Regions from separate parts of the Homo sapiens genome. Here region 1 is linked to region 2. Evidence: fine-mapped expression QTL. A gene starts in region 2. The other region holds a variant in brackets. All regions are shown on one strand. Distances are from middle to middle. Region 1 has its middle 9.1 kb from the start of TARM1. Region 2 holds the start of TMC4 (transmembrane channel like 4).

The links. PIP is the estimated chance that this variant, and not a neighbour inherited with it, causes the effect. A credible set is the group of variants that fine-mapping cannot tell apart.
Region 1: its variant is the best candidate, but not a certain one, in a credible set for the expression of TMC4 in whole blood (INTERVAL, PIP 0.69).

Annotation. Positions count from the first base shown.
Region 1 is chr19:54,087,661-54,093,174 of GRCh38, forward strand. No RefSeq gene overlaps it. Among named protein-coding and RNA genes, the nearest start is that of TARM1, 9.1 kb to the left of the region's middle. The variant A/ATTT (reference allele first, on the strand shown) is at 2,557.
Region 2 is chr19:54,170,126-54,175,125 of GRCh38, forward strand. TMC4 (transmembrane channel like 4) reads right to left here and starts at 3,035. Exons shown (of 15, transcript NM_144686.4): 1 at 2,914-3,035; 2 at 1,745-1,958. The coding sequence starts at 2,992. MBOAT7 (membrane bound acylglycerophosphatidylinositol O-acyltransferase MBOAT7) reads right to left here. Exons shown (of 8, transcript NM_024298.5): 8 at 3,290-4,306. The coding sequence ends at 3,919. RefSeq lists enhancers at 3,158-3,974, 3,975-4,790.

The sequences.
Region 1 (5,514 bases), 82 kb before region 2:
TGCTCCACCCATCAAGTTATCATTTACATTAGGTATTTCTCCTAATGCTATCCCTCCCCCAGCCCCCCACCCCACTCTGTTTTTTTTTTTGTTTTTTTTTTTTTAAGACAGGGTCTCACTGTGTCACCCAGGTTGGAGTGCAGTGGTGTGATCTCGACTCACTGCAACCTCTGCCTCTCGGGTTCAAGTGATTCTCTTGCCCCAGCCCTCCCAAGTACAAGGAATTACAGGGTTGTGCCACCACGCTGGGCTAATTTTTGTACTTTTAGTAGAGACAGTGTTTTGCCATGTTGGCCAGGGCTGGTCTCGAACTTCTGGGCCCAAGTGATCCGCCTGCCTCGACCTCCCAAAGTTCTGGGATTACAGGTGTGAACCACCATGCCTCGCCTAAACTACATTCTTGAATTAGTTTTATGGCACAGAATATCTTTTTCTCCTCTCTCAATGCCCTCTCTCTCTCTAGCTCCCTCTCCTCCCCTACAGCTGCAAAGAAGAGATCTTCTTAATCCATTTCTTAAACTTCTTTTGATCAATTATAAAGAATTTTTTTTTTAGATGGAGTCTCACTCTGTCACCCAGGATGGAGTACAATGGCACAATCTCAGCTCACTGCAACCTCTGCCTCCCGGGTTCAAGTGATTCTCCTGCCTCAGCCTCCCAAGTAGCTGGGACTACAGGCATGTGCCACTATGCCCAGCTACTTTTTTTTTTTTTTTTTTTGTATTTTTAGTAGAGACGGGGTTTCACCATGTTAGCCAGGATGGTCTTGATCTCCTGACCTCATGATCCGCCCACCTCAGCCTTCCAAAGTGCTGGGACTACAGGCGTGTGCCACTACACCCGGCTACTTTTTTTTTTGTGTGTGTGTGTGTTTAGTAGAGATGGAGTTTCACCATGTTAGCCAAGATGGTCTCGATCTCCTGACCTTGTGATCCGCCCGCCTCAGCCTCCCAAAGTGCTGGGATTACAGGTGTAAGCCACTGTGCCCGGCCAATTATAAATATTTTTTAAGGCTAAACTCTGGAATTTTGCTAGTTAGCCTTAAAAGCACAAAGCAGGCCTATAAAGTTCAATTTTACTGGTAGAAAGCAAGAAATGGATGAATAGGATGTTCGCTGACAACCATGCAATTGAAACCTCCTTTGCAAAAATTACGAGAGTGAGCAAAGGATGGCAGTGAAGGAGATCGGATCTGGCCAGCCCCTACCTTGCCTTTGGCCCTCAAACTGCCTGTAGTTATTCCTGGGTTTAGGCTAATCTGACTTGTCTCTTTGGGAGACATTTATTTTATTTTCTTTTATATTTCCTTGAGACGGAGTCTCGCTCTGTAGCCCGGGCTGGAGTGCAGTGGTGAGATCTCGGTTCACCGCAACCTCTGCATCCTAGTTCAAGGGATTCTCCTGCCTCAGCCTCCAGAGTAGCTGGAATTACAGGTGCCTGCCACCATGCCCGACTAATTTTTGTATTTTTAGTAGAGACGGGGTTTCACCATGTTGGCCAGGCTGGTCTGAAACTCCTGACCTCAAGTGATCCGCCCGCCTTGGCCTCCCAAAGTGCTGGGATTAGAGGAAAGAAGGAAAGGAAGGAAAAGAAAGGAAAAGAGAGGAGAGGAGAGGGGAGGGGAGGGGAAGGGAGAGAAAGGAAAGGAAAGGGAGAGAAAGGGAAGAGAGAAAGAAAGAAGAAAAGAGAGAAAGAAAGAAAGAAAGAAAAGAAAAAGAAAGAAAGAAAAAGAAAGAAAGAAGAAAAAAGAAAAGAGAAAAGGAAGGAGGGAGGGAGGGAGGCAAGGAAGGAAGGAAGCAAGAAAGAGAGAAAGAGAAAAGAGGCTCCTTATAAACAACAAAAGACACCCTTCTCACCAAGGGTTTTTGGAAATTCCAGAGTGATGGGGTGAGAAGGGTGTCTTTGGAACCAAAGCTGAAGACCAAGTACATATTTCTTACTATATCACGGTATCACGGGAGGTAAAACGGAGGTGTCCTTGAAGCAGCTCCTCCCCAGCCCCCAATCCTCTTGTGTGCCCGGAGGATCAGAAGAGGTCCCGCCGAGACTCAGCTTAGCTGTGGTTCAAGCCTCTGATTGCGTGGATAAGTACCAGGTTTCCAGAGTGCCAGGGCGGGGCTGCCCCTTGCGGTGGCATTAACTTTCCATGGCTATTTAAAATCAGCAGAGGACACACGATCTTCAGATGGGTCCTGTTTTACTTCCATATTTTCTCCTAGAGAGAAGAAAAATCATTAAACTTTTTTTTGTTTGTTTTTTGTTTTTTTGTTTTATTCGTTGTTTTTCTTTTTTTTGGGACGGAGTCTCGCTCTGTGGCCCAGGCTGGAGTGCAATGGCGTGTATCAGCTCACTGCAACCTCTGCCTCCAGGGTTCAAGTGATTCTCCTGCCTCAGCCTCCCGAGTAGCTGGGATTACAGCTTTGTATTTTTAGTAGAGTCGGGGTTTCACTATATTGGCCAGGGTGGTCTCCAACTCCTGACCTCAGGTGATCTGCCTGCCTTGGCCTCCCAAAGTGCTGGGATTACAGGCGTGAACCACCGCACCTGGCCTACTGT[A/ATTT]TTTTTTTTTTTTTTGAATAGAGAAGGGAGTCTCAAACTCTTGGCCTCAAGCCATCCTCCTGCCTCAGCTTCCCAAAATGCTGGGATTACGAGTGAGCCACTGCACCTATCCCACCCCCTCCCACCCTCATTTTTAGAAGGGCACAGGCTAGAGACCATATTTCCATCAGTCACTTTTGCGGCTAGACCTGGCCATGAGACTAAGTTCTAGCCAATGGGATGCGATAGGAAGATATATGCTCAAATTCTAGGTCCTGCTCTTAAAAAATAATTGTGTGGGCCGGGCGCAGTGGCTCACGCCTGTAATTCCAGTACTTTGGGAGGCTGAGGCAGGCGGATCACGAGGTCAGGAAATCGAGACCATCCTGGATAACACGGTGAAACCCCGTCTCTACTAAAAATACAAAAAAAATTAGCCGGGTGTGGTGGTGGACGCCTGTAGTCCCAGCTACTCGGGAGGCTGAGGCAGGAGAATGGCGTGAACCCGGGAGGCGGAGCTTGCAGTGAGCCGAGATCGCGCCACTGCACTCCAGCCTGGGCGACAGAGCAAGACTCCAACTCGGAAAAAAAAAATAATAATAATTGTGTGAGCCCTTTTCTCTCTGTCCTCTCCACTTTCTTGGGGCTCAGAACCAGAAATTAAAGCTACATGTTGATAAAAGCAAAACCATCCCACCTTAACAAGTAAATCGTTGAGATTGCCCAGTGATTTACTGTTAAGTGAGAGAGAGGTACATTTATATCTAGTTTTTTTCCGGTGGTGAAGGAGATTCTTTTTTTCTCTCTCTCTCTCTTTTTTATGAGATGGAGCTTGGCTCTTGTTGCCCAGGCTGGAGTGCAATGGCACGACCTCGGCTCAGTGAAACCTCCGCCTCCCGGGTTCAAGTGATTCTCCTGCCTCAGCCTCCCGAGTAGCTGGGATTACAGGCATGCACCACCACACCAGGCTAATTTTTTGTATTTAGTAGAGACAGGGTTTCACCATGTTAATCAGGCTGCTCTCGAACTCCTGACCTCAGGTGATCCACCTGCCTTGGCCTCCCAAAGTGCTAGGATTACAGGTGTGCGCCACTGCACCTGGCCGGGAGATTCTTTTTTACAACAGCTTAAAGTGCTCTGTAACCAATACACTATGCAGTGATTTGGTTAATACTTTGTGAGTTCCATGAGTGCAGGGTTTACGTCTGCTATTGCTCCCCACTGGACCGCCGGACTCTAGCACAATGCCATGCACGGTAGACATTGAATACATGAGTGATACGAGGATGAATGAGACTAGGGGAAATCAGTGGAAGCCCTAGGCCTGGCGCAGTGACTCACTCCTGGAATCCCAGCACTTTGGGAGGCCAAGGAAGGAGGATGGCTTGAGGCCAGGCATTCAAGACCAGCCTGGACAACATGGTGAGACCCCATAGCTATAAAAAGTAAACAATTAGCCGGGCGCGGTGGCTCACGCCTGTAATTCCAGCACTTTGGGAGGCCGAGGCGGGTGGATCACGAGGTCAATAGATCGAGACCATCCTGGCCAACATGGTGAAACCCCATCTCTACTAAAAATACAAAAGTTAGCTGGGCGTGGTGGTGGCACACGCCTGTAATCCCAGCTACTCGGGAGGCCGAGGCAGGAGAATCGCTTGAACCCAGGAGGCGGAGGTTGCAGTGAGCCGAGATCGCGTCATTGCACTACAGCCTGGCAACAGAGCGAGACTCCATCTCAAAAAAAAATAATAATAATAATAGTAATAATAAATTGGCCAGGCGTGGTGATGGCAGTGTTGTCATTGCTTTAAGAGGCAGGAACAGGGGGAAAAGACCCAGCAGTCTAACCACACAGACAAGTCCCAAGTTAAGCACTTCTGTGTGACTTGGGGGCTGTTGATAAAGATCAGAAATAACCTATGTGGATCACCCAGCAAAATGACCAGTATGAAAAGATGTTCAGTGGTAGAAAATGAAATAAGCATTGTGACTACAACTCACTCAATAAGCATTCATTGAACACTGGTCACTGGTAAACTGCTATGAAGAAATCTCAGCTGGGTGCAGTGGCTCACGCTTGTAATCCCAGCACTTTAAAGGGAGACCAAGGTGGGCAGATGGATCACTTTAGGTCAAGCGTTCGAGAACAGCCTGGCCAACATGGTGAAACCCCATCTCTACTAAAAACACAAAATTAGCCGGGCATGGTGGCAGGTGCCTGTAATCCCAGCTACTTGGGAGGCTGAGGCAGGAGAATCGTTTGAACCCGGGAGGTGGAGATTGTAGTGAGCTGAGATCACAACACTGCACTCCAACCTGGGAAACAGAGCAAGACTCCATCTCAAAAAGAAAAAAAATCTCAAGCTTATTGGATAGATAAATGCACAGGTAGATAGATGGATATTGAATGAATAAATAGTTCAGTGGATTAAAAACTGGTTAATGAAGAAATGGATGGGTAAATGGATGGAAATATGAATGAATGCATGATGGATAAGGACAAATGAAATAGACAAATGTACAAATGAAAGCAAAGGAAAAAGAGATGCTCAATAGAAATGAATAAGGATGAGAATCAATGCTAGACATGAATGAGTGAATGGTGAATGAAGGAGTGATTGAATGGATGAATACATGGAGTTAAGTTGAAGTACAAACTCGGCCAAGACTTCTTTTTCTCTGCTTTGGGTGGAAATACATTTTAAAAAAAAGAGGGCCGGGCACGGTGGCTCATGCCTGTAATCCCAGCACTTTGGGAGGCTGAGGCGGGCGGATCACCTGAGTTTGGGAGTTCGAGGCCAGCCTGACCTACACAGAGAAACCCTGTTTCTACTCAAAATACAAAATTAGCCAGGTGTGGTGGCTCACACCTGTAATCCCAGCTACTCGGGAGGCTGAGGCAGGAGAATCACTTGAACCTGGGAGGCGGAGGTTGTGGTGAGCCGAGATGGCGCCATTGCACTCCAGCCTGGGCAACAA
Region 2 (5,000 bases):
AACCTAATGCTAGGCAGAAGAAGCCAGCACAAAAGACTGAAGACTGTATGATTCTATTTGCACAACGTTGCAGAGCACAGCTTGCAAAGCTCTACAGAAAAGCAGGAGGCTGGAGTGGGAGGATCGCTTGAGCCCAGGTGTCGGAGGCTGCAGTGAGCTGAGACTGCACCACTGCACTCCAGCCTGGGCATCAGAGCAAGACTCTGTCAAAAAAAAAAAAAAAAAGGTTAGGGAGAAGAGGTTACCTTGTATTTGTGAGGAAAAAGGGGGTGTCAGGGGAGGGACGCACAGGGTGCTGTCATGCCGTGTCACTTGCCCTAGCTGGAGTTTATCTGGGCTCTCACTTTATGAATACAGCCATCCCTCAGTATCCATGGGGGTTGGTTCAAGGACTCCCCAAGAATACTGAAATCTGTAGATGCCCAAATTCCTTATATAAAACGGTATAGTATTTGCATACAGGCTACACACATCCTCCTGTGTTTGTTTTATTTTATTTTATTTTAATTTTTATCTGATTTTTACAGACAAATGTCTCGTTTTGTTGTCCAGGCTGGAGTGCGGTGGTGCAATCATAGCTCAATGCAGCCTCAAACTTCCAGGCTCAAGCAATTCTCCCGCCTCAGCCTCCCAAAGCGCTGGGGCTACAGGTATGGGCCACGACACCCAGCCCTCCAATGCACTTTAAATCACCTCTAGATTACTTATAACACCCGGTACAAGGTAAATGTTATATAGATAGCTGTTCTTTTAACTTGTATTATTTTTTGTCATATTGTTACTTTGATTATTACTTTTAAAAAATAGAGATGGGGGTCTCGCTATGTTACTCAGGCCGCAGTATAGTGGCTATATTCACAGGCATGATCCCACTACTGATCGGTGTGGGAGTGTTGATACATTGTTATTTTTTATTGTTTTTTCCATATATATACACATATATATACATATATATGTGTATATATATACACACATATGCATATATATACGCATATATATTTGAGATGGAGTCCCGCTCTATCACCCAGGCCGGAGTCCAATGGCACGATCTTGGCTCACTGCAACCTCTATCTCCCTGGTTCAAGCGATTCTCCTGCTTCAGCCTCCCGAGTAGCTGGGATTACAGGCACCCGCCACCACACCCAGCTAATGTTTGTATTTTTAGTAGAGTTGGGGTTTTGCCATGTTGGCCAGGCTGGTCTCGAACTCCTGACCACAGGTGATCCACTCGCCTGGGCCTCCCAAAGTGCTGGGATTACAGGTGTGAGCCACTGCAATGGGCCCATAATCATTTTTGAAGGAGGGCACCTGCATTTTCATTGTTCACCAGGCCCTGCAAATTATGCAGTGAGAATGGGAAAAGAAAGAAGTTAAAGAGAGGGAGGCTTGGAAGAGGAGGCAAAGATGAAGGAAGGTATAAAGCAGAGAGAAATAAATATTAACAGATTTTGGACACACACACAGAGAGAAACTGAGGCAGAGACAGGATTGGTGGAGACCAGGGAGACGGCAAATCCCAGAGAGAAGAGACCCCAGAGCCATCGAAAGGCAGCACTCACCTGGAGTCCGAAGTAGAGACAAAGATGAGGGGAAGAAAGAAACCAAGAGAGGCAGCTCTGAGCGGGGCAGAGAGAGGCCCCAGAAGCCAGGAGCGGCAGAGGACAGAGGGAGGAGACCGAGTCCAGGGTATGGGAGAAGGGCCCGGTCCGGGCTGTGCGGGTCCCAGCTGGAGGTGGGGCCTCACCTGTGTGCCCGTCTGGCCTGCATGGGCCAGGGCAGTTCCCGGGAAGGGTGAGGGTCCTGCAGCTCTGTCTGGGTGACTTCTGTGAAGGCCTTTCTGCTCCTTCCTCCATCCTCCTCCTCCTCCTCCAGCGCCCCCCAAGGCAGCACCCCAGGGTCTCGGTACCGAAGGGTGGCAGCACTGGGCAGCTCGTTCAGCACAGAAGACAGCGATGGGCCTGGGGAGGAGCAGGGGGCTGGGAAGACCCGGGAGTCTGGGCCCTAATTCCTCCTCCCTCAGACCAGGAAACCAGGTCCCCGGCCCCTCCTCCCTCAGACCCAGGAGTCCAGGCCCCCGGCTCCTCCTCCCTCAGACCCAGGAGTCCAGGCCCCCGGCTCCTCCTCCCTCAGACCCAGGAGTCCAGGCCCCCGGCTCCTCCTCCCTCAGACCCAGGAGTCCAGGCCCCCGGCTCCTCCTCCCTCAGACCCAGGAGTCCAGGCCCCCGGCTCCTCCTCCCTCAGACCCAGGAGTCCAGGCCCCCGGCTCCTCCTCCCTCAGACCCAGGAGAACAGGCCCCCGGCGCCTCCTCCCTCAGACCCAGGAGTCCAGGCCCCCGGCTCCTCCTCCCTCAGACCCAGGAGAACAGGCCCCCGGCCCCTCCTCCCTCAGACCCAGGAGTCCAGGCCCCCGGCTCCTCCTCCCTCAGACATAGGAATCCAGGCACCCAGCCCCTCCTCCCTCAGACCAGGAAACCAGGTTCCCAGCCCCTCCTCCCTCAGGCCCAGGAGTCCGGGTGCCAGCCTCTACTTCCCCTGGACCCAGGGGTCCACAGCCCTCAACTCCATCCCCAAGCGTGGAACCCTCCTACTCCAGGGCAGTGGAGTCCAGGCTTTAACTTCCTTTTCCCTCTAGCTCAGGAGTGTGGGAACCCAGCCTCTCCTATTCCCAAGACACCCAAACTCCCAGCCCTTAGCCCTCCCCTCCTCCCAGACTAGCCTGGTTCTCCAGGCTCCTCCTCCTCAGACCCTGGAGTTCCAGCCTCCAGTTCCCTTCTCCCCCATAATATCAGGAAGTGGAACCTTCTCTCTTTAGCCCTCAGACTCAGGAGGCCAGGCCTCCCCTTTCCTCCTCCAGCAGGACTCCCACCTAGCCTGAAGGTCGGATGGATCTGAGCTTCTCCTGGCATTCCCTACCTCCTCTGGCCTCCCGGGGGGCCAGCCACTCCCTAGAGGAGCCCCAGGCTTCTGATTCCAAGGTCGGGTTTTCTTCCATGGCCCCAGGCTGGGCTGTCTCTAGTGGCCACCAGGCAGACACTGCCCCAGGTAAGGGAGGGGCCAGGGGCAGGTGTGTACCTGGCCAGCAGGTGGCCCGGAGGGAGTAAGGTACACTTCCTGTGGTTTCTCAGGGCCGCTGATGCGAAAGGTCTCCTGGGAGCTGAAGTCCCCGTGGTGCCCCGGGCCTCACAGTTTGGTTCCTGGGCTGGGCGGGGGGGCTGTACCTCACCCTGGGACTTGGTGGACTAAGTCCTTCCCACCGTTTATCACCCAGATACCTGCACGGACACGATGCCTTTGTGCAACACTTTATTGGGAAAGATTTACACACGGTGACCTGTCATAGGCCAAGCGATGAGAAGAGGGCGCCAGGAGTGCTGGGGTCCCGAGGTGGCTCAGATGGAAGCCATGGGACGGCCGTCCCCAGGCCCGCGCACCCGCACCTCAGTTTCCCCTTTGTGAAATGGGAAGCTTATGCTTCCTTCCAAGTCTGCAATATTGGTGCGATGAGCTAAAAGTGGAGCGAAAGACACAAGGAAGAGGCTTCCCACTCCCAGGACCTGCCCCCAAGCTCCGACCCCACATTGTGGATGCAAAGAAAGGGAATTTGCCCAAAACCCACTGCCCAGGGGCCCCTTCCGTTTTGGGGAAGTGCAGTGCTCTCTGGATACCCAGAAGCTGGAGCAGGGGCCAGTGACTCTTGTCTGGACAATACTTTGATTTTGTAGGAGTGGAGGTGGCCTCTGGGCAGAGGGCAGGGAGGACACCCCCGGGTCTGCTTCAGTTGCAGGCAGGGTATTTAGCTGGGGAAGAGGAAATTCTCTCCAGGACCCTCTCCAAGGTAAGGACTCTTTCTGGGGAGGAGACAGCAGCCTGGTTCACAGAATTCCCGGGACCAGCTGGCAGAGGGAGCGTCGTGACAGCTTACTCCTCCCGGAGCTTCTCCGGGGCAAGGCTGGTGGGCTGGGATGCTGCCTTCCGCCGGCTGGGGCTGCCCCCACCTAAAGCCAGCCCCAGCCCCAGGGCTGCCAGGGCCAGGAAGTGGATACAGAAGTAGATGGAGGCCCAGTACCGAAGGGTGTCGGCCAAGGAGAGCAGCACGAAGCCCATGCACATGTAGTCATAGGCGCGCATCTTCAGGAACCAGTGCACCCAGTCCCAGGCCTTCTGGCCCCCTGGGCTCAGCCGCCCCCGCAGGGCTGACTCCAGCCGGCCCTCGGCAGCCAGGCACAGCGGGATGGTCAGGAAGCTCAGGTAGTAGCCCGGGTGGAGGCCGTGCCAGTAGGCGCTCAGCAGCATGGTCCAGGCGCTCCTGAGGAGGAGGCTGGGAGTCAGGACCTACGAGTCCAGGTCCCCAGTGCCCACTGCCCCCAGATCCAGGAGTCCAGGACCCCAGCCCCTCCTCCCTCAGACCGAGAAGTGCAGGCCCAGCCCCTCCTCCCTCAGACCCAGGAGTCCAGACCCCACCCCTTCCTCCCTCAGACCCAGGAGATCAGGCCCCAGTCCCTCCTCCCTCAGACCCAGGAGACCAGACCCCACCTCCCTCCTCCCTCAGATCCAGGAGTCCAGACCCCACTTCCCTCCTCCCTCAGATCCAGGAGACCAGACCCCACCTCCCTCCTCCCTCAGATCCAGGAGACCAGGCCCCAGGCCCTCCCCACTCAGACCCATGACCCTAGCTCCGGAAGGCGGAGGAGGCTACAGGCCTCTGTCTCCTTCAGGGATCCAGGAGCTCGCAGCCTTCCATACACACTCAGTCCTATCAAGACCCTCTTCTTCTTTAAAGATTTAACATTTTATATTCCACTGCCCTTCCTCTCCCAGGACCAACAAGTCTTAATTCTTCAGCCCAGTGGTTTTTTTTTTTTTTTTTTGAGACAGAGTCTCGCTCTGTCGCCCAGGCTAGAGTGCAGTGGCGCGATCTTGGCTCACTGCAAGCTCCGCCTCCCAGGTTCACGCCATTCTCCTGCCTCAGCCTCCCGAGTAGCTGGGACTACAGGCGCCTG